3 linked regions of the Homo sapiens genome follow. The protein of the gene in region 2 interacts with the protein of the main gene of each other region in a biochemical or structural test. Each region holds a gene or a part of one and is shown on either strand. Other genes may lie near its edges.

The links.
Region 1: of the proteins of SSH1 (region 2) and DSTN, one has a biochemical effect on the other in vitro, tested with the Homo sapiens proteins (one study listed by BioGRID).
Region 3: of the proteins of SSH1 (region 2) and CORO1B, one has a biochemical effect on the other in vitro, tested with the Homo sapiens proteins (one study listed by IntAct).

The regions. Positions count from the first base shown.
Region 1 is NC_000020.11:17,599,838-17,610,075, reverse strand, and holds the end of DSTN (destrin), read right to left. Parts: intron 9,339-10,238; coding exon 9,031-9,338; intron 5,522-9,030; coding exon 5,445-5,521; intron 3,040-5,444; coding exon 2,930-3,039; 3' UTR 157-2,929; downstream 1-156. UniProt on the Homo sapiens protein: Actin-depolymerizing protein. Severs actin filaments (F-actin) and binds to actin monomers (G-actin). Acts in a pH-independent manner.
Region 2 is NC_000012.12:108,852,957-108,863,033, reverse strand, and holds the start of SSH1 (protein phosphatase Slingshot homolog 1), read left to right. Parts: upstream 1-5,450; 5' UTR 5,451-5,537; coding exon 5,538-5,606; intron 5,607-5,739; exon of another isoform or gene 5,740-10,077. UniProt on the Homo sapiens protein: Protein phosphatase which regulates actin filament dynamics. Dephosphorylates and activates the actin binding/depolymerizing factor cofilin, which subsequently binds to actin filaments and stimulates their disassembly.
Region 3 is NC_000011.10:67,439,454-67,450,345, forward strand, and holds the start of CORO1B (coronin-1B), read right to left. Parts: upstream 4,024-10,892; 5' UTR 3,951-4,023; intron 3,178-3,950; 5' UTR 3,176-3,177; coding exon 2,975-3,175; intron 2,636-2,974; coding exon 2,513-2,635; intron 2,410-2,512; coding exon 2,280-2,409; intron 2,062-2,279; coding exon 1,880-2,061; intron 1,792-1,879; coding exon 1,672-1,791; intron 987-1,671; coding exon 882-986; intron 811-881; coding exon 665-810; intron 391-664; coding exon 333-390; intron 1-332. UniProt on the Homo sapiens protein: Regulates leading edge dynamics and cell motility in fibroblasts. May be involved in cytokinesis and signal transduction.

The sequences.
Region 1 (10,238 bases), on a different chromosome or scaffold from region 2:
CAATTATAGTCAAGAAACAAGTTGCACTTGCTGTGCCTGCGGCAGCCGGTACTCTGCAGAAAGGAAACCACCAAACCAAACCTATTATCCAAGTCACTGTGTCCACTGTTTTTGCAGAGTAATATTATCTGAGATAACTTCACAGTCAAGCTCTGATTGAATTGTTAGCAATGGCTTTATTTGCTGCTTTGTCAGGGCAAGAGAGTAACCGCTAGATGAGACTAAGTCAGCTTTCCACAAACATATTTTTGCAGTGTGTTAGCATTTGTGAAGAGGTAAACGTATTTTCTGGAAACAGAGTATACTTGCAGTTTTGTTCCTGACCAACAGTAGACCAATCAGCTGAGGTCTGAACCCTAATTATGTACCAGAATCGCCTTGAGTGCTTGTTAGCACAATTCTTGGGCCTCAGGAATCCACTGAGACTTTCTCAAAAGTTCCCCTAGAGACTAACTACTAGCATTTTATTCAATTTCTGGAGTGAGTTCTGGATGCTTACATCACATCCCTTTGTACTGTTTGAAATCCTTCCCACAGAAGACACCTCACACACGCACAACAGTGCCACACTTAAGCCAACACCACAGGAAAAATCTCCTTCTAAAACTCCTTGACCAAATATCTTGCTTTACCTACATGGCTGACTTTTGAGTACGGCAGTCTTGGGCTTATGGCACTTCCCTGGAGGCCTGTTAATCACAATCACTAGCAGGACACAGTGGCTCACACCTGTAATCACAGCACTTTAGGAGGCCAAGGCAGGAGGCTTGCTGGAGCCCAAGAGTTCAAGGATGCAGTGAGTTATGATTGCACCACTGCACTCTAGCCTGGGGGAAAGAGTGAGACCCTGTCTCAAAAAACAAAACCCACACTAAAAGCATTGCTACAAAGTAAAGAAACAAGCAATTCAGGATGAATGACAAGCAGCCAGCACTATTTTCTAGACAATTCCAAAATATTTTGATTAAAGCATAATCTTGTCTCACAAACACCTGGCATGTGGATCAACATTAAAATGTTCCCCACCCTAGACTGCACTTAAACCTAGTGGCATAGCCTACTACACACCTAGGCTGTATGGTAGAGCCTATTACTCCTAGACCACAAACCTGGACAGCACGTTACTATACTGAATACTGTCGGCAACTGTAACACAATGGTATTTGTGTATCTAATTACAGTAGAAAATACATTATAATTGTATGGGACCACCATAGTATATGCAGTCTTTGACATGTAATAATGCACAGCTGTGTATCAAAATGCTAACCATGTGATGGCATGTGGTAGGACAATGTATAATTTCCCTTTTCTCTATTTTCTAAATTTTAAATGTGAATTTATAATTTTGTATAATATTTATTACACTTATAGTGTAATAAACATTGAAAACGTTCCCAACTTTTACACCAACTTTCTTATTCACCAGAGGGAGTTGTGACTTTTTTTTTTTTTTTTGAGACAAGGTCTTGCTCTGTCATCCAGGCTGGAGTACAGTGGCACGATCTCAGCTCACCTCCTGGGCTCAAGTGATCCTCCCACCTCAGCATCCAAAGTAGCTGGGACTACTGACGTGCACCACCACACCCGGCTAATTTTGTTTATTTTTAGTAGATGAGATCCCACTATGTTGCCCACGCTGATTGTCAAACTCCTGGCCTCAAACTATCCTCTTGCCTCGGCCTCCCAAAATGCTGGGATTACAGGAGTGAGCCACCACACTCAGCCAACCTTAACTCTTAATTATTGGAAATACCCAAACCTCAATGCCTTACCCCATATGGAAGGCAAAATCCTGTATTCCCAATTCACACATGAAAATTACACGAGAGGTAAGTCAAAAATGCTTCCTTTATTACATAAAGCCAATACTGCTACTTCTAAGTTCAACTGTTTGTGCATCTCTATATCGTTCAAAGTGTTACGCCCGTGATATTAACAATGACCGCTTCCAAGTGTCAGTGAACAGTGGCTCCCTGTGAGTGTCATCATGGTACCTCTCCCCATTGCACACAAGTCAACAAACTGCTCTAGAAAGTTAAGTTCTCCCAGGCCCAGAGTAAACATATACTCAATATTCTTCCATACTTTATTATACCATAAGAAGCAAACTTCTGAAGGAGATACAATTAAAGATACCACAGGTGTCCTAGCTTGTCAATATTCTGTTTTATCATTTTCATTAACAAAGCAGATTACAATGTAGCCCTAATTTGCATTATAATTAGTTGTTACAAGACACTGCACATTCTCCTGAAGACACACAATGATTTCCAAGATGCCAGGTCACTCTTCCAATCAGTGAATGGCGAGCTCACTGGCAGGTGCAGGGCTACTTCCTGTATTCCAATGATGTGCCTGAAATAGCGCTTTGCAAGATGAGCGTGGATTATGTGGACACAATTTTGAGGCAATCTCCATTACACATTTGGTAGAAGACTGCCTAACTTAATCTTACTATTAGTGTATTAGTGTTGTTATATTATGAAGACATATTATATTCCATTATTCTGCTTAGCTCAAGGAAGAATAAAGAATTTGGACCAAAATTATAACCAGATTATGAGCAATTTCCTAAGCAAAAGAAACAAAGTAAATGCTGAGGTTAATAAAGATGTAATAATTCTCTTCACATGGCCTTTACTGTTTGTGAACTGTGTAATTTAAAATCCTGAGCTTAACAAAAATCTTTATAAATCAACTCATCAAAACAGGCATTTGGCCAATAAGAATTTAATTTCACATCAATAAAACTTTAGACTTTAGATTTATTTAGGGCTGTTTGCATATGTTTATAGAATAGTTTACTCTAAAAGATGACAAGACAGCTCCCCCTCAGTGAGACCCTGGCCTAAATATATTTGCTTTATTTATATAGCAAGAGGATAACATTAAACATGGAAGCTTTCAATTTGTGGCACTGAATAATCTACACAGGGCATCCTTCAAAGGCTACAATTAAGGATCCACCTAACTTTTCAGCAATACAAGCCCGATTGAGATCTTCTGGTCCATTTGCTTGACATTCATGTTTTATGCCTAGAGAGAAAAAACAACACTTCTATTTACAATTATGGCAGCAGTTTACCTCTTTCTCTAAGATAACCAAACTTTTAAAAGACCAGTTCTAATCTGGATAAACTGGGGTATATACAAACACGGAATACTACACAGTAACGAGAAAAAATAATTGTAACTACATGCATCAAGATAGATGGGCCTCACAAACAGCATTCACTGAAAGAATCCAGATTTAAAATGCATATATTCTATTATATATATAGGTATAGCATACAAAATCAGCCCACGCTAACTTACGCTGTTAGAAGCCAGGGTGCTGGCTACTTTGAGGAGGAAGGGGCAGGCAGAAGTGCTATGAATTGAAGGGAACAGCACCAGGGAGGCTTCTGGGGTGCTGGTCATTAGATTAAGAAATAACCATTATGTTCACTCTGAAAAATTCAACACATTCTACAATAATTTGTGACATACACTTTTCTAAAGATATGTTGTACTTTGCTAAAAAGCTAAAAGGCAGGTCTAGTAAGAAAATTTTCTTGGTTTTTAAAACATAAAAATACAAATGATTTTTGATTGCACAGTTGATTTTGTCAACTGTATTGAAAAGTAAACAGCTGGCTCTTCAATGGTATTACACTACACATTTATGAAATCGATCACAATGAAAACTATGTGAAATATGTTACTGATTGCTTTCTTAGAACAATTACACTACCACAATGCAAAAACGAGCTCAATTATGGATTACATACAGTAGCTTCTCTGTAAATGGCCACTGTCTTTTAAATAGCTGCATGGTTATTCCCATCATTTAAAGACCATTATTTCTCAAGCTGCTGAAAGCACAGCAGGTCAGCTTTTGAACTACTCAGGACTGATCTGAGAAAGACAGTGGATGCTTTCATTAGAAAAAAGGCAGCATGGTCACTATCTTTTTTTTTTTTTTGAGACAGAGTTTTGCTCTTATTGCCCTGGCTGGAGTGCAATGGTGCGATCTCAGCTCACTGCAACCTCTGCCTCTTGGGTTCAAGCATTCTTCCTGCTTCAGCCTCCCAAGTAGCTGGGATTACAGGCATGTGCCACCACGCCCGGCTAATTTTTTTTTTGTATTTTTAGTAGAGACAGGGTTTCACCATGTTGGTCAGGCTGGTCTCGAACTCCTGACCTCAGGTGATCCACCTGTCTTAGCCTCCCAAAGTGCTGGGATTACAGGCATGAGCCACCACACCCAGCCGGCCACTATCTTTTAGTATCACCAAATCAAGTGTGCAAAGCAATTCCCTTTACTGAAAGGCAATGCAGAATAAAGATAATAAGGAATCCACTGTGAACCTTTTGGTTGGGCTGGGAAAGTGTTGAAGCTAAAGGATTTAAAAGTGTCAGTTAGCAACCCAGTGACACACTTCTGGGGGTTGCCAAACATCAAACCAAATGCACGAAGAACCTGACCCAGCAATAAACTATGCAGCAGCAAGGCTCGGGAAAGGAAGCAAGAATTTTTTTTTCCGAACTAAGTAAAACAGGCTAGGGCAAACCTGTTCTACCATGAAAATATAAAAACCAGTGACAGTAAAACAAACAAAACAAAATCAACATCAGGCCAAGCCCTTGTGACCTTGGCTCACTCAGCTGTTTGGAAACAGCCATGGCAGGAAGGTGGCAGGGCAAACTCTTAAACTAAAACTCACACATGAGACCAAGTCTCCCCTTCTACAGCTGAGAGAATCAAGGCCCATGGAGGTTAAGCAGTTCTGGCCAAGGCCACACAGCAGTTAGACAGGCTTCGCCCTCAGTGCAGGCCTTTGGGCACTTGCCCCATGCACGTTCTTTCCATCATACCAACATTTTCTCCTGGCTGAAGTCTGGCCAGGCCATCTCATCAGGATCCCAATCACCCAGTGGCAAGTCAAATACAACTGACCAGCTCAGGAGTGGGTGCACTTTCCTTGGGACACAGATGAATTAATTACCTAAAATCATGCCATTCAACAGTAAAGCTGGAGAAAAGAGCATCCTTTCTCATTTAGGTACATTTCCTTTTTGCAACTTTATTATAACAACTACATTCAAAGGCAAGAGCAAATTTACTATTATGTCCAATGTTAAACAATCAGTCTCCACCTCCTACATGAGAAAACTGGTAGCACCTCAAACTAGTTTAAAACCAGCCTGAATAAACGATATATATAGACAATGTCAAGGGTATAGTTATTAAACACAGGCTGGGCAGACCCAGAGCAACCAGCACAAAGCAGAAGATACATGGAAAGTCAAATTCAGTCTTCTGCTTTTCTCAAAACAAGTAACACTTCTCCCTTGTGCCCGAAGCTCTGCAAAAAAATAAGGTGCTTCTCAGAAAAGGTGCTGCCCCATTCTGAGTGTTCACCATACCTCTACATATTCAGAGGTCATCTAGAACATACCTTGAAATTTCTTTTTAATTGCATCCTTGGAGCTTGCATAGATCATTTTACTTTTCAGAGGTGCTAGTTCTGGTGCCCTAGATAGAAAGATGCCAAAAATGAAAAAAGTGGTTTAGAGAAAGTATAACTTGCAACTTGTTAAACATTTGCTTGTGTAAACATTTGCTGAGAATCCTCAGACTCTCCTGAGATATTTTTTCTTAACTGCACATTTTTTCTACCTCCCCAGCAGCTCAGAGAGGAAATGCTACAGATAGGCATATGCAGAATCACTCAGGTTGACCAGGGTGGGAAAAAAGAAGAGAACCACTGGTGGCAAAAGACAATCACCAATTAAAAATCAGATTACAGTCGCCATAATGAAAGAACCAACACTGAGTACTTCACTGTATAACCCAATTCTTTTTCTTCAGAATATTTTTCATTATTATTAATAAGGGATTGGATTCAGGCTAATATTTACACAAGGTTTTTGACAGTTTTTCTAGTTGGAAAAAAGTTTTAAAATACATAAAAGTACAGAGAATAATCCGTAAGTACGTGTGACCCAGAATTAAATGCTAATATTTTGGCACCTTTGCTTCAGATTGTTTTCTAAAAAAGAATAAATCAAAAACTTAAAAAAAAGGACAAAAAAGAATAAATTACAAATAAAAGTCCTTTTCTTAGACTTCCCCAGTCCCTTCATCTATTCCAATAGCAGGTTTTGATCCCACAGGTACTTGTTTTCTTAGTCTAACATAACAATACATGTTTAATTACAGATCTGGGCATCCACGTTTCAATAATTCTCTGGAAAAAAATATTAAATCCACTTGTATAATCTCATGATTCTAAAGATTTCTAAATGGCAACTCACCAATAATTATGTCTTAACTGTCAATATTATTACTATCTTTTTATATTTATAACATTGGAGCACGTTCTCCCTCTTGAAGGGAAGCGTGTTAGAAGCACAGCATATGTGTCACAGCACCTTCAGCAGCAACACTGAAGAATAAGGATGATTAGTAACGGACAGAAACCCTCCCACTCAGACTGCTTGCACGGAGGTCCTTCTTTCCTCTGTACGCCAACCCATAGGCCCACCTCCATGCCACACTGCTAAAATATCACAGAGAAGATGCAGTACAGTAAGTCCACACTTAACATTGTCAATCAGTTCTTGGAGCCTGTGACTTAAAACAAAATGACATATACCAAAACCAGTATTTTTTTTTCTCAATGTTATAACAAAACTACATTGAAAGAAATGACGTTATTTGAGGACCTGGTGTATGTTGTTTTGCTTAAAGCTGTAGTTTCCAAGAGCCTACTGGAGGTCATTAAGATATTACGGTATAGCTAAATACTTCTGAGCATTTAATAATTCCATTTAGCTGCCATATTTCCAGGACATTCAACAGCCATGAGCACTGGCATGTGGACCTCACCTAGTGTACCCCTTACCCTAGTGAGCAGAGATTCCATTCTTGGGAAAAAGGGCAGTCTGTCTCTCAGAGGCTTATTCCTCCCAATCCTAAGGTCCAGGGAAGGAGGCAGAGCCATCACAACCTCAGGACTGGCAGATGTTTGAGCTACAGGGTGGGTACTTTTTATTTTTTATTTTTTTGAGGCGGAGTCTCGCTCTGTCACCCAGGCTGGAGTGCAGTGGCGTGATCTCAGCTCACTGCAACCTCTGCCTCCCAGATTCAAGCGATTCTCCTGCCTCAGCCTCCCGAGTAGCTGGAACTGCAGGCGTGTGCCACTATGCCCAGTTAATTTTAGTAGAGATGGGGTTGCACCATGTTGGTTGGCCAGGATGGTCTCGATCTCTTGACCTCGTGATCTGCCCACCTCCACCTCCCAAAGTGCTGAGATTACAGGCATGAGTCACTGCGCCCAGCAGAGTGGGTACTTTTGTTATGAAAATAGGTCAGAAACATAAAAAAGCATCAGCTGTTCTGCTTTTATTCTAACCAAATTGTTAAACTACTTTAAGAGCTGCTCCCTGGGCCATGGGCGGAGCTTGTTATAGAAAATGCCTTTAATAAGGTTCTACCTTTTCTTAAGTAACAGTGTAACAGTGCAAAATAAACCACTGCACTAACACTAAATTTCCTTTTCTTCTATTATTTTCCACATTTAAAAAAATAAGAATGCATACTTTTCATAATTACAAAATACATAAAAAGCAGAAAAAATACCTGCAAATTAAGGAAATACCGACCAATTTAAAAGCCTAAACCATTAGCTGGCCTGTCTGCCACTCAGCTGTGAATGCCAGAAGAGGAAGGACTTAACCTGTTTTATTCACAGCTGTTTTCCCAGGCCCTCGCACAATAGCTGGCGTGTAGTAGAAATAAAGTTCAGTAAATGCACCTTCATTCAAATCCTTGTTAATTTTCAGTCTTATGTACCAGCTTCAATGGACTCTAAGCTGCCTGAATACGTGCACCCTGACCTCATATTTGCATTCCTCACAGCAACTTGGTTTAATCAAGTGCAGTAAAAGCTTACTGAAATACAAGTGAGGTGTGACCTCGAGTTATCTTCCTTTTTAAACCACAATCCTCTGCATCTCCTACTCCCATATCCCTTTTACACTCCAAGCTATTGATGGCACATAGCTAAAAGCTAAGTCCCTCCCTGCCTTGCCCTGACTCAGGCCAAAGTATCAAGAGAATCCTTGCCCCTCTAAAAAAAAAAAAAAGAAAAAAATCAGGTAGTGTTACCATTTCTCCCTCCCCTTAGAAACTAAAGAATTCTACTCCTGGCCATATCAAGGAATGCAGTATAATATTCAATAAATGAGGGATCCAGGTGTAACTTTTTTCTAAAGCTTCATCTCAAATACCGACTTGCCTGAAAAGACCAGAATAACTAAACAACATTTCAAGAAAAAGGCCATAAAAATAACTTTATAGCCCTGTTTCACTATCTAAGAGTAACACTGCCCAACAGAGTTTTCTGCAATGATGGAAATGTTCTGTATCTGTGCTACTCAATAAGGTGGCCACTAGTCAGATGTGGCTACTGAGCATTTGAAATGTGGTAATTCATTCAGCTAACAAACTGAATTTTTAATTTTAAATAATTTAAATAGCCACATGTGGCTAGTGACTACACTACTAAACAGTGCAACTGTAGAGCAAATTATAGCAGGGAGGGAATGGTACCAATTTCTTCAAAAGTAGTAGACCACAGAGGCACAAGGAAGGGGTGTAATTTAAAAGAGTAGATAGAAGGCTGGTTCCTGGCATGGCTCGTTGGAAAAGTAGGGTTTTGGCTTATAAGTAAGAAAGTTAAAAGTAGTAGGAAATTTTAGCCTATAAAAGCAGTACATTCAGAGGATGCCTCCTGTCCTTTCCCCATTGAAAAAAAAAACAAAAACGGAGAGTCACATAACAAGTAGATAGAAAATAGTCAAAATTTAGTTTGGGTCCCATAAACATCAGCCCTGGTAACATTATGAAACCTGTAAATAAAAATTAAATGACAACAACTGCAAATAGTTTGAATAAAAATTACTTTGGTGCTGGAACTGGTCTTCCCGAGTGCTAACAAAATGAGTTTTACAGAGGCTCAATATTTCTAACATGCTTACCACAAAAAAAACATCAACTCTTCTTTTCTGGATTCTTTTGTTTCAAAGCTTGCATCATACAAAGCATAGCGACAATCTTTTTCAGGAAGCATTCCCACAAAATGCTTGAAAGGATCAGTTATGGTTACACCAACATCTCCAACCAAGATCTCTTTGCCTTCTTCTACAATGATGCACTTTTTGTCTGCACTGAGACAAAAAATGACAGCCTTCTTTCTTTTCTTGATTTCTTCTGGTGTGGAGCATTTACGAACTTTCATGTCATAAAAAATGCGACATACTTCATCAGCTACTTGCACTCCTGAGGCCTATGATGAGAAAATACATGAGAAAAAGACTTACAATTTTTATTGTGCCAAACATAAAATAATAAATTCTGCTTATAGATTGGCATATATTTAACATTTTAAAGGTATATCATCTAATTAAAAAACTAGAAATTTGAGCTGTAATCACTACTAATTTTAGACATCAAACTTTTTAAAAGATCACAAATATATGCCATTCCTCACTACTGCACAGGGGTAAGGAAACATTCAACTATAGCAGCCTCTCCTACCCTAGAACCTTAAAAGAAGTGTTTCCTAAGGTGCTGGGTTATTTTCTTCTTATACAGGTTGCTTAGAGCCTTGACTACAGGCAGATCATCTTCCCAGTGTGTATATTCATGATACCTAAAATTCCTTTTGTAATACACAGTAGCTGGTCATAGCTGCTAGACTGGGAAATTTCCATCCCTACAGCATCTCTTTCTCTAATAAAAAAAAAGATTTATTAAGAGGTCTTTGCTCTACTCACATTTCAAAATTATGTGATCAATATTCAGTATTAGTCACACTTGCCATTAAAATTTCACTTAAAAATTCCAAATTTTAAACTAAGATTAGAATAAATAAGAAAATGTCTACTGCTATAATAAAGAGGGTAGCTTAATTAGGGATTATACTGACCAGAAAAATTACCTTTCGCTATGTTATACTTGCTATTCTGGGCTGAAGGACAGTTAAACAAAATCTTGATAGCACAAGATCTTAAACCAGTTTTTAATTTTTTCATCTTGAGGAATGTGCTATTTACATTAACTTTATTATATCCATAATTGTTAATGCCTCATTAACTACTTTGTTTTGCATGTTAGCTTTTCTAAAGCAAGAATTATAAAGCCCAACAAGAGATGCCCAGGAGGCTCTGCCAGTCATGGTTGAACA
Region 2 (10,077 bases):
CTACTAAAAATACAAAAATTAGCTGGGCATGGGGGTGGGCACCTGTAATCCCAGCTACTTGGGAGGCTGAGGCAGGAGAATCACTTGAACCCAGGAAGCGGAGTTTGCAGAGAGCCAAGATCAAGCCACTGCACTCCAGCCTGGGCAACAGAGCAAGATTCCATCTCAAAAAAAAAAAAAAAGGGAACTATTACTTATAATAGTTGGTCATTAATGACAAAACCGCAATTACTTTTGCACCATTAAAAAAAAAAAAAATGACAAAAACCGCAATTACTTTTGCACCAACCTAATTTGCACCAACACTTTCTGAGGCTGTCCTGGAAGAACCTGTCTTTGCCTGAGTTCTAAAGCAGAAAAACATGGGTGAACCAGGTTCACCACTCCTTAGTTACATAACTTGGGGCCAGTGCCTTAACCACTCTGTGCATCAATTTCCTCACCCATGAAATGAGAATCACAGGGTGACAAGAATGAATGTACCTAAAGTGTCCCAACCCAGAAATGGGCCTAGGGCAGATCCACAATGCCATTGTCACTAATGCACAGGGGCTGTAGGAGCACAGAGAAGGGGTGCCTAACCCAGCCACGGGGCAAGGAAGGCTTCCTGGAGGAGGTGATCTTGGAGTATAAGTGGGGGGACAGTCACATGTTAATAAATCATGTCCCCCACACACTCACAAAGCACTTTGCATTGTGCCTTAGCAGAGAGCAAATAGCTCAATAACTCACTGTTTTTTATTAGTTACAAAAGTGAGCTGGGACTACAAGGAGGAGGTCAAAGATGATTAAATAAACTATTATATGATGAAAAATCATGATACTGATTGGAAAGGGCTCTAATGCATGGGAGAAAACTTCAGAGCTGCCTCTACTGGATTGTTCCCCTCCTCCATGCTCAGGGCTTCTTGGGACCTGCCCTGACTGAGGCCTGGGAGCTTTCACTTCCCCTTGTCCACTCCACCCCATCAGAGGCTACTGGAGTCAAGCCGACAGGCTTCCTTTTTTTTTTTTTTTTTTTTTTTTGAGACAGAGTGTCAAAAGTGGCACGATCTCAGCCCACTGCAGCCTCCACCTCCTGGTTTCAGGCGATTCTCCTGCCACAGCCTCCCGAGTAGCTGGGATTACAGGTGCACGCCACCATGCCCAGCTGAACCACAGGCCATTTTCACAAAAGGCTTTAGAATGGCCAAAGTTGTAAAAGAATCAAATAAAGACAGGATCAATAAAAGTGCTTTGCTGAGCTACACTGAAGTCTGAAGTAAGTGGAAGAATCAGTGACACAATACTGATGCCAATTTTACTTAAAAATTTGATACTTTGGCCAGGTGTGGTGGCTCATGCCGGTAATCCCAAAGCTTTGGGAGGCCAAGGTCGGGGGATTGAGTGCCTCCAGGAGTTTGAAACCAGCCTGGGCAACATAGCAACACCCAGTTTCTGGCAAAAATAAAGTCAGCCAGGCGTGGTGGTGTACACCTGTAGTCTCAGGTACTCCGGAGGCAGAGGCAGGAGGATGGCTTGAGCCCAGAGTTCAAGGCTGAAGTGAGCTAGGATTGCACCACTACACCCAGTCCTGGGTGACAGAATGAGACCTTGGCTCTTAAAAAATTTTTGTAAATATTTTGACCAGGTGCAGTGGCTCACACCTGTAATCCCAGCATTTTGGGAGGCCGAGGCAGGCAGATCACTGATTTCAGGAATTTGAGACCAGCCTGGCCAACATGGTGAAACCCCATCTCTACTAAAAATACAAAAATTAGCCGGTCATGGTGGTGGGGGTCTGTAATCCCAGCTACTCGGGAGGCTGAGGCAGGAGAACTGCTTGAACCCAAGAGGCAGAGATTGTGCCACACTGCACTCCAGCCTGGGCAACAGAGCAAGACTCTGTCTCAATTAAAAAAAAAAAAAAAAAGCAAATTTTAAAAATATTTTATTCATCATGGATTTGGCATTAATTTTGATTTTCTAAAATATTGCATTAAAATACTATTTATCTTAATCATTGAGTTTTTGGGGGCACCCTCTTACATTTTGCACCCTCACGCTGGTCCCAGCCTGATTCCTGAGGCTTTTCTTAGGGACCGTTCCTGGCTCTACGGTAATGGGACAAGACAGAGAGATGGACCCATTATGATAAGGCAGACTGACACTTGCTGTGTGTTTAAGGGTAGGGTGAGGGCTACGAGATCCTGGAAATGACACTGCTTAAGGGGCAGGGAAAGCTTTTTGGAGGTGATTTCTAGCAAGAGTTAGTTGTGGGGAAGAAAAGGGCTCTCAGCTCTAAGAGGAAGTGAGAAGGGGTGGAGACTGCCTCCAAAAAAGTTGGGGTGAGTGGAAAAGCAGGCCGGCCAGAGCAGGGGGATTAGGATTGGGGGCCACGGACGGGTACCAGGATCAGATCTAGGTAGGAATTTCTTGGTGAAGAGGCCATTGCATTTGTATAGGCAGTAGTTCTCAGACTGTCGTCCCCAGACAGAAGCATCAGCATTGCCTGTGAATTTGTTAGACGTGCAAATTTTCCAGCCCTACAGCAAACCTTGTGAATTCGAAACTCTGGGAGGTGGGGTCTAGCAATCTGTATTTTCTCCAGGGGATTCTCAAACTCTCAAATTTGAAAACTAATGTAAGAGAGACATAAAAGAAAAATAAATCATAATGAAACAACATGCATTACAATGTGGAAATGCTCAGCCACTACTCCCTTAGAGGACACAGGGGCATCTCAGAAGCATGGGCCTGCCAATAATCAATGTGCTTGGATTTGAGAAATAAAATATTCTCTACTCAACTGAATTTTGTCCACAATTTTCCCTTATATTTGACATTTAAGTACCTATGACTGTCTGTCTACCTAGAGTGCAGCTACAGTTGTGGGCACCTTGTGTGGGATGCTCTAATATTAGCAGAGGCGTTGCCATCCATTACCTCCTTTTCCCTAAGGATGGATGAACAACTCTTGACAAAACTCTCAAGCAAAACAAAGTGTATTTTCCCTTCCTTTCCCTCCCCTCCCCTCCTCTCCCCTCCCCTCCCCTCCCCTCCCCTCCTCTCCCCTCCCCTCCTCTCCCCTCCCCTCCTCTCCCCTCCTCTCCCCTCCCCTCCCCTCCCCTCCTCTCCCCTCCCCTCCTCTCCCCTCCCCTCCTCTCCCCTCCTCTCCCCTCCTCTCCCCTCCCCTCCCCTCCCTTCCCTTCTCTCTTTCTCTCTGTCTTGCTGTGTCACACAGGCTGGAGTGCAGTGGCACGATCTCAGATTGCTGCAACCTCTGCCTCCCGGGTTCAAGTGATTCTCCTGCCTCAGCCTCCTGAGTAGCTGAGATTATAGGTGCCCGCCACCATGCCTGGCTAATTTTTTGTATTTTTAGGAGAGACAGGGTTTCAACATAGTCACCTTTCTGAAAATTCAGTAAAAAATACCAGGCTAGCCATGGTGGCTTCTGTCTGTAATCCCAGCACTTTGGAAGGCGGAAGCAGGAGGATTGCCTGGGCAACATAGTTAAACTTTTTTTTTAAAGGAGCTGGGTGTGGTGGTGTGTACCCGTTGTACTCAGGAGACTGAAGCAGGAGGATGATTTGAGCCTGGGAGATGGAGGCTGCAGTGAGCTATGATTGTGACATTGCACTTCAGCCTGGGTGACGGGAGTGAGACCCTGTTTCAGAAAAAAAGTGAGAGAAAGAGAGGAAGGAAGGAAGGAAGGCAGGAAGGAAGGAAGGAAGGAAGGAAGGAAGGAAGGAAGACTAGTGTTGATGCATGAAATGGAGTTAGGTTCTGGCTTCAAATTACTATAAATGGGTTTTTCACCCAGGAAACATTTTGTGGGAATGGAGCAATTCTTGTTGGGGAGACTGTCCAGTGCATTGGAAGACATTTAGCATCCAAGGCTCTTGCACTCTAAATGCCAGGAGCTCTCCCCCTCCATCAGCAAGACAACCACAAACATTCCCACAAATCCCCTCTTAGAAACGCTCCGTAGAAGCTACAGTGCCCCCCACTAGAATCACCTTTGAGATGAATCGTGCTGAGACCCTGTGAATAACATGGAGGAGGTCACAGCCCCAGGACAGAGGGAGGGACGGGGAAGAATCCAGGAGGCTGCGTGGGTTTCCTGTTGGGCAGTAAGACAAATTTGCTAAGCTGCGGGGCAGGCTGGGACCACTGCGTTTGCGAGTGCTTGTGCAACATGCAGAGGTTGGGGGTGGGAGCCGGGAGATGAGATTTTGGCTAAAAGAAAAGTTTCCTACTACTAAGTCAAGCCAGAATTGCCTTCTTGGTATCTTATTCCATGTTCCCCTCTCCATCCCCATAACTGGTCACCTCTCCCCGGGACAACAGCAGCAGCCTCCTCCCTGGTCTCCCTCAGCCCTCTGCCCCGTGGTCCCTCATCCACGCAGCAGCCGGAGCGATCTTTCCAGAGAGGATGGAGACTCCAGCCATTCCTCCCCTCTTCCCTTCCCTGAGTGCTGGCCTCCGGTTGACAAACTTCTTCCTGCTTCAGGGCACGCTGATCCCCCCTGCTTGGAGAGCTGTCTCTCTGTTCTTTCACCTGTTAATCCTGCTTATGCTCAAGCCCAAGCCTCAGAATAAAGCTCTTCTGGGAAGCCTTCCCTGACCTCCAAGGAGTTGGCTGGGTTTCAGAACACCCAGAAAGAATTCATTGAAAAAGATTAGCAAAATACTTTTTTAAAAACGTGCCTAATAACTTGATTAACCTCTGCAAAATCAGGCGAATCTATTTTGCTTACTGTTTTTGTTTTTTGTTTTTTGTTTTTTTGAGACCGAGTCTCGCTCTGTCGCCCAGGCTGGAGTGCAGTGGCGCGATCTCAGCTCATTGCAACCTCCGCCTCCCAGATTCAAGCGATTCTCTTGCCTCAGCCTCCCGAGTAGCTGGGACTACAGGCGCGCACCACTGCGCCCAGCTAATTTTTGTCTTTTTAGTAGAGACGGGGTTTCACCATGTTGGCCAGGATGGTCTCGATCTCTTGACCTCGTAATCCGCCCGCCTCAGCCTCCCAAAGTGCTGGGATTACAGGCGTGAGCCACCGCGCCCGGCCCCAGGACGTCTTTTATTTCCTGGTCGCTGTACAGTCCTGTCTGCACGGTCGCCGGGCCTCAGTTTCCCCAGGCAGAGCAGCGGGCAGGGCCCCTGGGGCGTACGGGCTCCGGGCGGCGCGCGCGCCCCCGAGTCCCAGGCCTGATAGCGGGGCGCGCGGGCGGGGGCGCGTGTGTCGGGCGCGCGAGGGACGTGATCGACCAGCCGAGGCCTCGGGCAGCCCTCAGGGCCCCCGCGCACGCGCGCCTCCTCGTCCCGCCCTGCCCGCTTCCCCGCCCACTCCGCGCACTGAGGCCTGCGCGCGCCGGCGCGGGAGGCGGGAGCTGGGGGCGGGGGCGGTGGCGACGCCGAGGGGGAGGGGCGGGCCCGGCCCGGCTCGGCCCGGCCGCCCGCGCGCGGCTCCAGGAGGCCCCGGGCCCGGCCCGGGCGGCGGTGGCGGTGGCGGCTCTAGCTCGAGACGTCTGTGGCGCCCTCGCACCGCGCCGCAGCCATGGCCCTGGTGACCCTGCAGCGCTCGCCCACGCCCAGCGCCGCCTCCTCCTCGGCCAGCAACAGCGAGGTGAGCCCCGGGCTCGCCGCGCCCGGCCTGGGCCGCCGGACGCCGCGCCGAGGCCGCCGGAGCTGGGGCCGCGCGTGCGGGGCAGGGGGGCGGCTGCGCGGGCTCCTCGGGGCCCCGCCGTAGGAACAGAGCCGGGCAGCCGGACCGGGGTGACCGTGCGAGGACTGTGTGCGATGTGACCCTGTCTTGGGGAGCTGTGCGGGGACTTTGTGTGCGGTGTGACCCCTATCGGGGGGCGACTTTGCAGGGACTGTGTATGCAGTGCGACCCCTCTGGGAGTGTCTGCAGGATACTGTGTGTGCGCTGTGACCCACATCAGGGGGTTACCCCCATCTTGGGGTGACCCCTGTTAGGCGGAGACTGTGTGCGTTGTGACCCCTAAGGGTGACTGTGCAGAGACTGTGTGTGCAGATGTGACCTCGTGATTGTGTGGGGACTGTGATTTCAGGTGTGACCCCCATCTTGGGTTGACCTCTGTCTGGGGAGGACTGTGCGTCTGTCGGGACTCCCATTTGTGAGTGACTCTGCAGTGTGACCAGGGTCCAGGGGTGACTGGATGTGCAACTGGGACCCTTGATTGGGTGACTGCGTGAGCCGCTGGTTCTGAGACCTGTGGCCGGGGTAGTTCTAGGCCCTTTGCCTGTATGCCTGGCTGTGCGATGTGAGATGTGACTGTTGCTGACCTGCCGTCCGGGGACTGTGCCAGCGTGAGACAGGCATCTGGGAGTGCCCCTACAAACGTGTGAGATTGTTTCCCCGCCTGCCGCCTCTGGAGTTCTGTCTGTAGGCGTGCCCGTGTCACTGTGTGACGGTGACCGAGCGTGCTGTGGGCTCTGTGTGGCTGTGTTTCACGTCTGTGCGTGCAGCCTTAGTCTGGCTTTTCCTTTCTGTAACATCACTCAGGCCTGTGTGTTTATGTGCATCTATCTTTCTGTGTGGCTGTGACCCATTCTGGGTGATTGCATAGGTGCATTCCTGGGTTGCGTGTCCTGGCACTGTGCGCGTTTTTGTGGGTCTGTGTGTGGCCCAGGTCCGTTTGCCTGGCCACTTTTTCCTCTGGGGTTGATTGAGGGCACTGTTGCCCTCTTAGCCTGCAGGGTTGGCCTGGCTTGTCCTAGGCTGGGGCCTTGGGCCTCTGAGCAGGTCAGCCCTCTGTAGCTGCAGGGATGACCCTCTGGTCGCGCAATCTTGCCCACCATCTCTTGAAGAACCCGTCAAGGCCTCTGGTCTAAACTCTTACCTATAACAAGGCTGAGTGTCCGCCTGCAGACCCTTAGCTGTGTTTAGAGAAGACTGGAGGAGCGGCCCTGCGGTCCCAGGCCCAGGAAGTTCCGCAGCCAGCATCTGGGCTCTTCAGCCCCTTTCTTTGTGGGAGGGAGTGGGGGAAGTTGACTGATAACACGGGGGAGGTTTGTGTGTCTGAGAGAGACAAGAGAATAATGTTTGCATTTGGCTTGACAGCCCTGTCTCCTGGTAGGGTAGTTCTTCAGCCTTGTTTTGCTGGGATTGGCAGGGACATTTTCAGAGTGGCTGGGAAGTTGAACCTTCACAGCCCCCTCCTTGGAGAGGAGAGGCCATTCATGAGTTATCTATACACAGAAGGTTCTAGTAATCCCCCTCTACACGCTGATTAGAGGCAAAAGAACACTGGCGATCAATAGCCTGCTACTGAGAAGTTAGGTTGCAGGAGCGCCTTTCCTTCCCACAGCGAGGAGGGGCTGTTTTCTGTTCCGGTCACTGCTGTCTGGCAATTTATGCACTTAATCTCAGGTTCTCATCACAAAAGTTTATGTGAGGTAAGGGGAGAGGTTGGCTTCAGGCTGAACCTGTCAGCCCAGATTTCTGATTCAAAACCCCATGTTCCTAGAGTTACTTGCAACCTAATCTGTTCTTGTCTTACGCATTTTAAGGTCTTATTATTTTTTAGTTACATACCATAAATTTGCCATTTTAAAGTGTACAATTCAGTGGTTTTTAGTATATACATGAGATTGTGCAACCACCACCATCTAATTCCAGAACATTTTCATCCTCCCCAAAATAGGAACCCTGTACCCGTTAGCCCTCACCTGCAGCCTCCCCCTGCCCCATTCTCCCTAACCTTAGGCAACCACTAATCTACTTTCTGTATCTATGGATTTGCTTATTCTGGACATTTTATATAAATGGAATCACACCCTGTGTGGCCTTTTGTGTCTGGCTTCTTTGACTCAGCATCACGTTTTCAAAGTTCATGCATATTGTAGCATGTGGCAGTACTTCATTCCTTTTCATGGCTGTATAATACTCCATTGTATGGATGTACCACATTTTGTTGGACATTTGTGTTGTGTCTACTAGATACATTTTCAATTATTATATAAAGCATTATTTTTACCAAGTGCCAATGACCCTGATAAACATAAAGTAAAACTCAGGCAGCTTTTATTTGATCATAGCAAAGCTGCAGCATTCATTGCTTGGCTTTGAATGCGCTGGGATGTTTCCCGAAGGCAAGGCCCTCGTTCAGATGTGTTGAGGTGAGAAGCAAGGTGGGATGGAGACAGCAAGTGTGTATGGGGTCAGGAGACCTAGGCCAGGCCGGTTCTGCCCTGGTCCGCCCTCGCTTGAGTTGCTTCCTGTGTGTGGGCCCTGGCTCATCTAAAAGGACTGAATTACCTCTTTCATGTGTTCCTTGGCAGATGTAGTTTCCCTGGAATAACTGACCTGAGATGGCCTTTCATCTGAGAACCTCAGAGAGTGACCGAGAGTTAAATGATTGTGAAGTCCGTACCCCCAAGTCACGTCATCACTCTTCAAATTGCAACTTCATAATGAGTCAGACACTTAGGGCAGTGCTTTCCTGACACAGCCAGGCCTGCTGCCGGCGTGGGAAACGGGGGATCACAGCCCTCAGTCCTAAGGCTCTCTTTTCTCTTTTAATTTTCTTTTTTTCCCAGTCTTTGATTATGTCACTTATGTCATTTTCCTGTGAATCTTATCTCAGTTCCTTTGTGTGAACAGGCAGAGCACAAGAATAGATAAATCAATAATTTTCAGGAATGGATCATAACATTGTTATTTCTGAGAAACATTCAAAGTGACTAATTTTCATGGGCAGATCTCCAGGCACTTTTTTGGATTGGACCAGAGTTTCTCAACCCACTGTTGATACTTGGGACCAGAACATTCTCTCTTGTGGGGGGACCATCCTGTGTGTTGTGGGATCCTGTCCTCTACCCACTAGGTGCCAGTAGTGACCTCCAGAAAAATGCCTCCAGACATCTTCCAATGTCTCCTGTTGAGAGAACTTGCTCCGCATTGAGAACCACTGGGTTAGACCCCAACATACTCTTTGTCAATTTGTTGCTCTTGTGACTTGTTTTGTGGTCATTGAAGCCTTCCCTGCTCTTTCCACTTCTCCTTCAGTGTGGGGTAGGTGCCTCTGCAGAATCTTGTATGTACTTCATCTTAATATGATGTAGGGACTCCCAGGCCCTCTGGTGTACGCTTTTTTTTTTTTTTTGAAACGAAGTATTGCTCTTTCACCAGGCTGGAGTGCAGTGGTGCAATCTCGGCTCACTGCAACCTCCGCCTCCTGGGTTCAAGTGATTCTCCTGCCTCAGCCTCCCAGGTAGCTGGGATTACAGGTACATGTCACCGTGCCTGGCTAATTTTTGTATTTTTAGTAGAGACAGCGTGTCACCTTGTTGGCTAGGCTGGTCTCGAACTCCTGACCTCAGGTGATCCGCCCACCTCGGCCTCCTGCAGTGCTGGGATTCCAGGTGTGAGCCACTGCGCCGGGCTGGTGTACTCATTCTTGGTTGAAGTTGCCACCTCCTGGTGGGTGTCCCTTGCTGCCCAGGCCCCTCCCTACATTATCTCTGGACCCTTTTTCCTTCGCCCTTGGCTCCTGCCTCATTTCTGTCCTCGATCAGCCCTGCATCTCTCCCAGCCATCACAGCTTTCCAGGTTTCTCTTTCCCATTCAATGGGCGCCTCTGTGCAACATAAAAAACATGCCAAGTCCCAGCGGTGCGGAGTTGTTTGGGGGGTGTGTATGTGTTTCCTTCTTATTTTCAGTTTGCTCTCTGAAAGAAAAAAAATAAAAATAAGTCATAGGTACTTCTGGAGCCCAAACTCGTGGCCTTTTAGATTTCAGAAAATATTAAATATCTCTTTCTTGCATTTATATAAATAAACCGATAGCCTAGGATGTTTCGTATCAAATGTTTAAGTCTTTTCGAGAACCATCAAGAGCTTTCAAGACCCACAAACAGACGGCCTGATTCCTGGCCACCTTCCACTGTGCAAGTCTTGCCTGGGTTGGTTTTTTGAAAATGGTGTTCATCACTCAGCTGTTATTGCCTGGCTCTGCGGAGGAAGTGGATTCTCTTTAAACATGACCCCCTCCCCTTAAAAGAGAAAAACAGGATAAGGTCCAGAACAACCTCGGAAAGTTGAGGGCTGAGGGCTAAAAGACCGTGCTGGGT
Region 3 (10,892 bases), on a different chromosome or scaffold from region 2:
CCCAGTGGATGGCGCCACCCCAGCTGTGTTATGGGTCCTGCCTCCTTCAGGAAGATCTGTGTGGCTGCCACTCCCTCCCTGACTGCCTGGTGTCCTTCTCCTGTGGCTCATCCAGAGCAGGGCCCCTGCTCACCCTCTGTCTCATCCCCACTTGCCCCCTGACTGGCACAGCCCAACAGCTGGCTGGTACAAGGGCAAGCTGGCATCTGTCCAGCTCACTGCCCACAAACCATACTAGGTCATGTTCCATTCACAGGCCTCGCCCTGGTCACAACTGCATGGCCCGCTTGCTGGAGAAAGGGCCAAGTGAGCCGAGGGACGGGCGGCCTCACCTTTCTTGGCACAGTCATGACGATGGGCTCACACTTGCGCTCATGCAGTTTGTAGAACCTGGGGATGCAAGGAGGAGCCACGGGTGGAACCCTCACCGCCCCCCCCACCCACCGCCAGCTCTCCTGGCATCCTCCACTTCCAGTCCTCACCCCAGGACCTCCGCAGGCCGACCCCTAAGGTGGCTAGACCCCCACACGGGCTGCCTCGTGACAGTTCTCATGGCCCGCCGGGCCTCCCTGGCGCAAGGTTTCCTGCTCCCAAGCAGCCTCCAATGACCTGACCTCTCACCTTAGATGCCCCTATCCCCGAGTGGCCTCGGTAGCCCTCTTACCGGGCGATCTCGCACTTGCTGACCTCCAGGCCCCGCTTGGGCATGCTGCCCATACCCCGCTGCGGCTCCTTGCTGGTGAACGTGTTCAGGAAGTGGATGTAGGGAGGCTCCTCTGTGATCTCAAAGTACCGGATGCTGGAGTCACCCTGTGTGGGGAGGGGGCTCAGCACCTGGGCACGCCTCTTCCCTGCCCCTCGCCAGCCCTGCCCAGCCCCACCTTGCCGCAGACGTAGACCACACTGGTGTCGGGGTCGTAGAAGGGCAGCAGGGCCCCGTTGCTCGAGTCCAGTTCCTGCAGGGCCATGGGTTCCTCGAGGTTTTCCTGGCACATTGCAGGCAGTCAGGCCAAGCAGAACCTCCTCACCCCCTAATCCCAAACCAGGACGGGCCTTAGCTGGCCTCACTAAGGCCAGCCAGCACTGCCCCTAAATGCAGGTGGGCCCTCTGCCATCTCTATGCCTTTTCCCACATGACGACCCCCACCTGGCCCTCCTGGCTTCACTTTATTCCCAGGGTCCCTCTTTTCCAGCCTCCTCCAGGCCTTAAGACTATGCCCAGGCCACTAAGCAAGTGCTGAAACATACCTCACTGTGGGGAGCTGGGGTGCCAGCGGCACCAGCCCCTGCTCAAGGTGCCCTGGAGGTCACTATGCAGAAGCAGAGAGGGCTGGGGCCAGGAGGCTTGCTGGAGGAGGAGGCTTTCTGGAGGAGCGGGGAGCCCTGTGCAGGCAGTGGGTGGTACAGGCAAGCAAGGGAGAGAAGGGCCCTTCCGTTGGCATGAACAACATGGGCAAAGACACAGAGGCAGTGGGAGGCCATGGGGGAGTGGTGGGGCAGTCGGGCGAGCAGGGGGCAGGAGAGGAAAGTCTGACAGAGTCCTAGGCCCTGAGAGCCTCAAGTTCCAGGCAGAGAAGCTAGGAACCACAGGCCTCCCCAGGGTGAACCCTGCCTGCCTGGCCCAGGGTGGGGCCCAAGTCTCAAGTTTGCCCCCTCAGGCTGGCCACTCACTGGGTCCCAGAGCGCCAGCTGCCGCTCGCTCATTCGGCTGAAGCCTGTGGTGAACACCTTGCCATCTGCCAGGAAGATGGCCCGCATGGGCCGGGCCCCCTCATGAGCCTTCTCCCGCTCCTGTCGGGGGGACAGGCTGGTCAGTGCAGCGCCCTGCTCAAGGTCCTGGGCCTATCCACAGCCATCCTTGCCCTCCAGAGCCACGTACTGCCACCAGGGTGCCCCGACGGGGGTCGATGATGCGCACGCTCTTGTCCTTGCATGCTGAGCAAAACAGGCTGCCATTGTGGTTCCAGCTGACATTGTAGATGAGGTCAGGGTGCAGGCTGTCCAGGCGGTACAGCTCCTCCGCTGTGCCCACATTCCAGATGAGTACCACGTTGTCGCAGCCTGGCAGGTGAGGGTTGTCAGCTCGGGCCGGGTGGGTGGCAGGAGGCCATTAGCTCACCAGGCTGAGGCCCACTCTGCCCACCACCCTGGGACAGACGGGTCTCTCCAACTCTGAGGGCCTCAGCTTTCCCATTTGTCATGTGGGCCCTGGAGGGGCTGCTGGGATGTATGGAGGGGTCCGTGGGGGGGGGGAGCACAAAACGGGGGGCGGTGCAGACCTGCACTGAGCAGCACGTTTCGGGCCGTGGGGTGCCAGGCGATGATGCCCACTCGCTTGGTGTGCCCCTCCAGTACCACCACCGGCTCTGTCAGCGGGGAGGTCAGCCCGTTCTCTGGGATCTGCCACACCTGTGGTAGGGACAGGGCCACCGAGCTCAGTCCTCTGCTGGTCCTATTGCTGGCCCCCTTCGGCCACACCCACGACCCTGGCCCAGCCAGTCCTGTGCCTCACCATGACCGTGCAGTCCTCCGAGCCGCTGGCTATGACTTCGTCGTTGTGAGGACACCAGTCGATGTCCAGGACAGGTCCCGTGTGCCCACACACCGTCGGGTAGGCCTTGTCAATGCGGCCCGTCTGTGGGCACGAGGGGGCAGTCAGTGGGCTCCATCCCTCCCGAAGCCTTGGTCTTCCCCTCCATGGAGTGGGAATGACATGCACGTCCCGGCTCACAGGTGGCCCAGATGTGACTGTGCCCCACTTGCCAGGTGAGCAGGAAATGTTTGCTGCCTCTAACCCTGCCTCTATGGCAACAGGCTACTTTCCATCTGTGCTAACACTTGGGGCGATAAATCTGGGTTATAACACCTGCCCAGCAGTGTGAGAAACGGCAAGATGAGGGATTCAAGGTGTGCAGAAAGGCCCAGTAGGGGTGGCCGAGGTGCCTCCTCTTCCCCCAACCCTGACAGGACCCACCTTGCTTAGGGGGAGCACCAGAAAGGCACCCCCTCCACTGGCCTCCACAATCACCGCCAGGAACTTGGGGTTGACGGCGCAGAAGGTGCTGTCCCAGGTAACACGGGACACGCGAATGTCCTCATAGCACTGGTCGTTCTTGACCGGCTGCCCGAACACATGCCGGAATTTGCTCTGCCGGACCACTTTGCGGAAGGACATGTCTGCGGGACAGAGAGGCCTGGGTCAGTCCGGCCCATCCCAACAACTCCAGCCCTCCCCAGGCTGCTGAAGGTGAGCCGGGAGGATGCAACCGGGGGCCAGGCCACCGTAACCCTCCTGGGTCTCGGTTTACCCAGTTACAGAATGGGGTCACAGGTGCAGAGCCTGGCCGCCTGTCACCCCGCAGGCAGTGATCTGAGAGGTAAATGCTCCGGCCCTGACCACTGCTGAGTCCTGAGGGGCTTTGCAGGACGCAGGGCCCCTCCCTGGCTCTGGTGTGTGTCGGGGGCAGGAGGTGGGAGGTGCCGGGGTTGGAGAGCTCTCAGCTCTACTGTAGGTCCCAGCCAGTCGGGAGCAGCCTCCTTCCTGCTCCCAGAGATTTGGAGGCTAGGTAATGGGGAAGAAGGAGAGAGGAAGCAGGAAAAGTCTCTCTACTGTGGGGCCGAGTGAGTGCCCAGTTCTGAGTCCCAGGGAATGTCCAGGGAGCCCCGGCATGGCCCCCAGGAAGGGACGGGGTCGGGACGCAGCTGTGGGCCGCGAAGCAACCCAGAGCGGCCTCGAATCGGGGTCCAGGGTGAACCAGGAGCCCAACTTCCAGGGACCTCCGCCCAGGAGAGGAGAGGCTGGGCGGCCAAGGGGAGTGGGACTGAGTGGGGTAGAGGGGAGGCGAAAGGCTCCTGGGACCCGCGATCCCCCCTCAGCCCCCTCAGCCCGGCCCCTGCAGCCCCGCCCAGCCCCCAGCCCGCGCCCCTAGCCCCGGCCCTGCCGCGCTCACCGGGGGCACCGGGGGCGCAGGGGGCTGCGGCACCGGCTTCGGGCGGCTCCGGATCCCGGCCTCTGGGAAGCAGGAAGCAGGATTCAGGAAGTGACAGAGGGACCCGGAGCGGGGGCGGGGCAGGGGCTCGCGGGGGCGGGGCCGAGGTCACGCGCGGAGGGGCTGGGCGGGAGGCTGAGCGGCGCCGGGGGGCCGGGAGCGGGGCCGCCGGGGACGGGGCCAGAGAGAGCCCCTTTCCTAGGACCCGGTGGAGCGCCCCCACCGCAGCTCCTCCGGAAGAAGGGGGCGGGGCGGGGCAGGGCCGACGGCGGCCGCCGCAGAGGCGCCGCAGGTGCGGGTGCAGCCTTACAGCGGACCCGAGGCCCCTTCGCGTTCTTGCTCCTCATAATGGCATCCGCAGGAGTCTCCAGGATTGGGTGAGGCCCCGCCTTCCCGGCCCCCGACGGAACGCACACCTCCAAGGGGCCCCATTACCGCCCCCAACAAATAAATGTAGAATCTACACGGACAGTGGATATGTTCACGTGACTCTTTTTAAGTTATCAAAGTTAATGCTCTTTTTTTTTTTTTTTTTTTTTTTTTGAGACGGAGTTTTTGTCACCCAGGCTGGAGTGCAGTGGCGCGATCTCGGCCCACTGCAACCTCCGCCCTCCCAGGTTCAAGAAATTCACCCCAGTAGCTGGGACTACAGGCTTATACTACCACGCCCGGCTAATTTTTTGTATGTTTAGTAGAGACGGGGTTTCACCATGTTAGCCAGGATGGTCTCGATTTCCCGACCTCGTGATCCGCCCGCCTCGGCCTCCCAAAGTGCTGGGATTACAGGCGTGAGACACCATGCCCGGCCTAAATTTCATGCTCTTGGTTAACAATGTAAAGAAAACAACAGCAGGTGTTGGGGTGGTTTTTTTTTTTTTTTTTGAGGCAAGGTCTGTCACTACCGGGCTAGAATGTAGTGCCATGATCATGGCTCACTACAGGCTCGACCTCCTAGGCTCAAGGGATCCTCCTGCCTCAGCCTCCCAAGTAGCTGGGACTACAGACACACACCACCACGCCTGGCTAATTTTTCTTTTACTTTTTGTAGAGATGGGGTCTCTTGCTCTGTCGCCCAGGCTGGTGTGTTTTTTGTTTTGTTTTGAGATGGAGTCTCGCTCTGTCTCCCAGCCTATAGTGCAATGGCGCGATCTCGGCTCACTGCAACTTCTGCCTCCCGTGTTCAAGCAATTCTCCTGCCTCAGCCTCCCAATTCGCTGGGATTACAGGTGCCTGCTACCATACCCTGCTATTTTTTTTGTATTTTTAGTAGAGATAGGGTTTCACCATGTTGGCCAGGCTGCTCTTGAACTCCCGGGCTCAAGCAATCCTCCTGCCTTAGCCTCCCAGAGTGCTGGGATTACAGTTGTGAGCCACCGTGCCCATCCAGAAAATAGCAGTGTTTATGGAGCGAGTGGAAGACCCAGGAGTCCCATTTTTCAGGGTAAACACCTGTGCATTCTGCTGAGCTTTCTTATTACAATTTGAAAGGGGGCCATGGCCAGTGAGTCCCTTGCACCTTGCCTTCTTTTCTCCACCATCTCCCTCGAAGGCCTGGAGATCCATTCACAGGCCTCTCTCTTTCTCTAGCCAGCGCCTGTGACAAGGAGCCCAGACTGGCCTCTCCAGACCCACCCCATCCCGTTCCACAGGTGGAATGTACCCCCGTTCCCTTAGGCCAGCGGCTCTGGGGCACCGGCTACTTCCCTTATTCTTTCCTTGAGCATCCACTGCCCTGGCTGACCGATGGCACCCTCCCTTTCCCAGAAAGAGATGGATGGAGGACGAAGCGGGGGAAGAGCAGAGGTCACAGGAGCCTTGTCTCTGGCTAAAAGAGGCCCCCACTGTGTGTCTGAGGGTGACCTCGGGCTTGTCTCCCATCTCATTCCCATTGCCACACCCCATTGAGGAAACAGGCACAGAGAGGTGCGGTGCCTGCCTGAGGTCATCCAGCCGGATGCAATCCCCATCGGCTTGGGTCCAAAGCCCTTGCTTTTCCTAGTGCTCTATAAACCCTGGGGCTAGAAGGATCATCTAGATCCCACCCACCTTCCTTCCCACCCCGAGGCCTGGGCACATCCTGTTCTCTCCATCTGGAAGCTCTTTCCTCAGATCCCAAAAAGGCTCCTTTCCCCACTCGATTCAGGTCTCTGGTCAGACATCACCTCCTCCTAGGGCTCTCCTGGACCATTCCTCACCCAGCCACTCTTTGGTCTTACTTGTCCTGACTGCATTGTTCTTTTTTTGGGAGACAGGGTCTTGCTCAGTTGCCCAGGCTGGAGTGCAGTGGCACGGTCCTAGCTCACTACCGCCTCACACTCTGGGGCTCAGTCCTCCCGCCTCAGCCTCCCAAGTAGCTGGGACTACAGGCACGTACCACCATGCCTAGCTAATTTTTATTTTTGTAGAGATGGAGGTCTCCTATGTTGTCCAGGCTGGTTCCAAACTCCTGGCCTCAAAAAATCCTCCTGCCTCAGCCTCCCAAAACTCTGGGATTACAGGTGTGAGCCACCACCCGGCCTGTGTTCTCCAGCGCCGCCTGATGTTGCATCAGGTGCTTATTGGTGTATTTGGTTTGTGTCGGCCTCCACCAGGATGTCAGCAAATTGAGGGGAAGGACTTTGCCTATCTTCCTACTGTATTCCCAGCACCCTGAACAAGATCCAACACTCAGTATGGGATCAAGTAATGTATGAGGAATGAATGAATGAGCAGCAGCCCTGAATGTAGAATTGAACAATACTCATAATCACAATTCTCAGGATCAATGTCTGGCACCTATGAAGGAGAGGGAAGGAAGGGCATCTCTCACCGGAGAAGGAGTGAGTCTTCCAGACGGCAGCAGGAGACTGGTCCCCTGGGATGTGGTAGGCAGGAGGTGTGTGGCTGGGCAATGTCTTGGGGCTGAGCCCACCTTCATGCCCATTTTCTCTAACACAAAACCCTCCTCCATGGACCACTGAGAGAACTCTTTTTTTTTTTTTTTTGGAGACAGAGTCTTGCTCTGTTGTACAGGCTGGAGTGCAGTGACGCGATCTCGGCTTACTGCAACGGAAACCACCTTTGCAAAACTATGACTGAGACAGTGAAAGAGATCTAACTTCACCAACCATCTTGCTTCTAATCTCTCTCTTTTTTTTTTTTTTTTTTTGAGACAGAGTCTCGCTCTGTCGCCCAGGCTGGAGTGCAGTGGTGCGATCTCGGCTCACTGCAAGCTCCGCCTGCTGGGTTCACGCCATTCTCCTGCCTCAGCCTCCCGAGTATTTGGGAATACAGGCGCCCACCACCTCACCTGGCTAATTTTTTTTGTATTTTTAATAGAGACAGGGTTTCACTGTGTTAGCCAGGATGGTCTCAATCTCCTGATCTTGTGATCAGCCCATCTCGGCCTCCCAAAGTGCTGGGATTACAGGCATGAGCCACCTCATCTGGCCCTTGCTTCTAATCTCTAAACCGTCCTTGTTCATTTCTGGGCATAGGCTGAACTAACTTTGGGAGAAACTTAGTTTATAAACAAAGATGGTAACAGCCCTTTCCCAAAGCAGACTTCCCTGTTGCCTGGGGACTAGATTGCCTTTGTAGGACTAACATTAGCCACAAGATTAGAAATTATGGTTTAGGGCCGGGCATGGTGGCTCACGCCTGTAATCCCAGCACTTTGGGAGGCCGAGGCGGGCGGACCACCTGAGGTCGGGAGTTCGAGATCACCCTGGCCAACATGGTGAAACACCGTCTCTACTAAAAAATGCAAAATTAGCTGGGTGTGGTAGCACATGCCTGTAATCCCAGCTACTCGGGAGGCTGAGGTAGGAGAATCGCTTGAACCCGGGAGGCGGAGGTTGTGGTGAGCTGAGATCACGCCATTGCATTCCAGCCTGGGGCAACAAGAGCAAAACTCTGTCTCAAAAAAACAAAACAAACAAACAAACAAAAAAGAAATTATGGTTTAGGAGTTATGCAGCTGGAGGCTATAAGATTCGGACCCTCCCTAAACTGCTCCTAAGGTCAGCGCTTGAGATATTTGCAGACCCTGCCCTTGATGGATCAGCTGGCACCACCAGATCAATCAACTGGCTCATCTGATCTTGTGGCCCCCACCCAGGAACTGACTCAGTGCAAGATGACAGCTTTGATTCCCTCTGATTTCATCCTTGACCAATCAGCACCGCTGGCTCACTGGCTTCCCACCACCCACCAAGTTATCCTTAAAAACTCAGCTCCCTGAGAATGCTCAGGGAGTCTGATTTGAGTAAGAATAAAACTGCAGTCTCCTGCACAGCCGGCTCTGCGTGAATTGGCTCTGTCTAGGCAGCAGGCAAGGCGAACCCCTCGGGGGTTTACACAACCCGCGCTTCCTGGGTTCAAGCAATTCTCCTGCCTCAGCCTCCCGAGTAGCTGGGATTACAGGCATGCGCCACCACACCCGGCAAATTTTTTGTATTTGTATAGATGAGGTTTCACCATGTTGGCCAGGCTGGCCTTGAACTCCTGACCTCAGTTGATCTGCCTGCCTTGGCTTCCTAAAGTGCTGGGATCACAGGCGTGAGCCACCGTGCCTGGCCTGAGAACTCCTCTTTATTCCGCAAAACCCTTCAGGCATTCTACCCCATCCTGTCCCACAGGTGGAGTCTGCCCCGCCTCCCTCAGGCTGGCGGCTTTGGGGTACCAGCTACCTCACTTATTCCTTTCTTGAGCATCCGCTGCTCTGGCTGACCAAGGGTGATGGTCTGCTGCTCTTTCTTCTGGACAGAAATCACGCATTATGGGTGGGATTCCCTTTGGGGTCCTTGGACGTGGGACTGGCCCACTCCCCAAGAGGTAGGGTTTGGAGTGTGGACCAGAGCTGAAAGCAAGTGGCTGATGCTGAGGTTTTATTTCCCAATCTGCCTGCCATGCTGAAAAGGCCCTGGGAGCCCTGCCCAGAAAAAGGGAGAAGGGCACTGCGGAGTGCCCTAATGGGGACCGAAGTCCAGGCCCTGCGCTCAGAGTGTGGACTGCAGTGGGATGGGGAGGGTGAGAACTTCCCTTGTGGAACAGGAGGCAGTGCCATGGTGGGGAGGCCTGGGGGGCAGGCGATCTGCCACTCAGGCGCTGGCCTGTGGCTCAGTATTGGTCCCAGGGCTGAGTGAGACCGGGGGGTGCCCACTGCTGTCATCAAATTAATGGCTAACAATCACGAACACTTCATAGGGATTCACGCTCCTGCAAGATGGGTACCATTATTATGATCCTCATTTTACAGACGAGGAAACTGAGTCCCAAAGAGGCTAAGAGCTTTGTGGAAGGTCACACAGCCTGTGAGTGGTGGAGCCAGGATTCAAACAACCCCTGATGGTCACCAGAGAGTGCACTCTTTTTTTTTTTTTTTTTTTTTTTTTTTTTAGAGACAGAGTCTTTCTGTGTGCCCAGGCTGGAGTGCAGTGGTGCGATCTCGGCTCACTGCAAGCTCCGCCTCCCAGGTTCACGCCATTCTCCTGCCTCAGCCTCCCGAGTAGCTGGAACTACAGGTGCCCACCACCACGCCCAGCTAATTTTTTTTTTTTTTGTATTTTTAGTAGAGACAGGGTTTCACCATGTTAGCCAGGATGGTCTCGATCTCCTGACCTTGTGATCTGCCTGCCTCAGGGTCCCAAAGTGCTGGGATTACAGGCGTAAGCCACTGCGCCCAGCCAAGAGGGCAAACCCTTAACCTCACCCAAGTGGCTCCAGAATGGAAGGCTGGCCAGAAAGGCATCTAGCGAGTGCCCAAGAAATACTGGATGAATGAATTCAATAAATGCATGCCTGGCCAGAAATCTCTCTCCCATGGGCCTCAGTGCCCGCAATTCCATCACTACGACTATGCTTCTGGTATCACCACCACCACCGCCCACAGCACTTCCCATCCCTGGGCTCAGTCAATGATCAGAACTGCCAAGCCTGCAAGGGGAACATGATCACTCCATTTTACAGAGGAGAAAACAGGCTGAGAGGAAGGAAGTTAGGAACCAGAACCCAGACCTGACTGTATCACTCTAGGCTGCCTGCACAGCCTGCTGCATTTGGAAAATGCAGGTGTCTCTGGGAAGGGTTGCACATCTGACATCATTGTCATTTACACCTGCCGGAAAGGGCGTCTCAGTTGCTGAAGGTCACGATACTGAGCTAATGGGATAAGGGGGCATGACTGGAACACTGGGGGTAAGGAGAACGCAGGTGGGGTGGGTGCCAGGAGAGGACGATGGGTAGGAAAAGGGAAGTGGAGTGGGGGTTGGAAGATAGACCTTCAGCACTTCTAGTTTTTTCTGCAGCATCAGCAGCTTGAGAGGGAAGAGCTGGTTCTGCCCTAGAGAAGCTGTGTGACCTCTGGGAGCCTTTGCCCTTTCTAATTTTTTTTTTTTTTTTTGAGATGGAGTCTTGCTCTGTCGCCAGGCTGGAGTGCAGTGGTACAATCCCGGCTCACTGCAACCTCTGCCTCCCGGGTTCAAGCAATTCTCCTGCCTCAGCCTCCCGAGTAGCTGGGATTACAGGTGTGCGCCGCTACGCCCAGCTAATTTTTGTACTTTTAATAGAGACGGGGTTTCACCATGTTGGCCAGGATGGTCTTGATCTTTTGACCTTGTGATCCGCCCGCCTCGGCCTCCCAAAGTGCTGGGATTACAGGCGTGAGCCACCGCGCCCGGCCGTCTTTGCCTTTGCCCTTCCTAGACCCACTGGTGCCCTGAGCTCTGTGTGCTTGGACAACTTCCTATCTGTGCACTTGGGCTCAGACAGAGGGAGGCTGTTATTCAGGCAGGATCGGGGCCCTCTGTACCTGCAGCCCCCACAAAGAATCTTGTGCAGCCCTCCACGGGAGGTGGGGAGCAGGTGGATGCTAATTGAACTTTTAAATAGAATCAGACTTTGAAGTCCCCTGCAGGCCCCCAA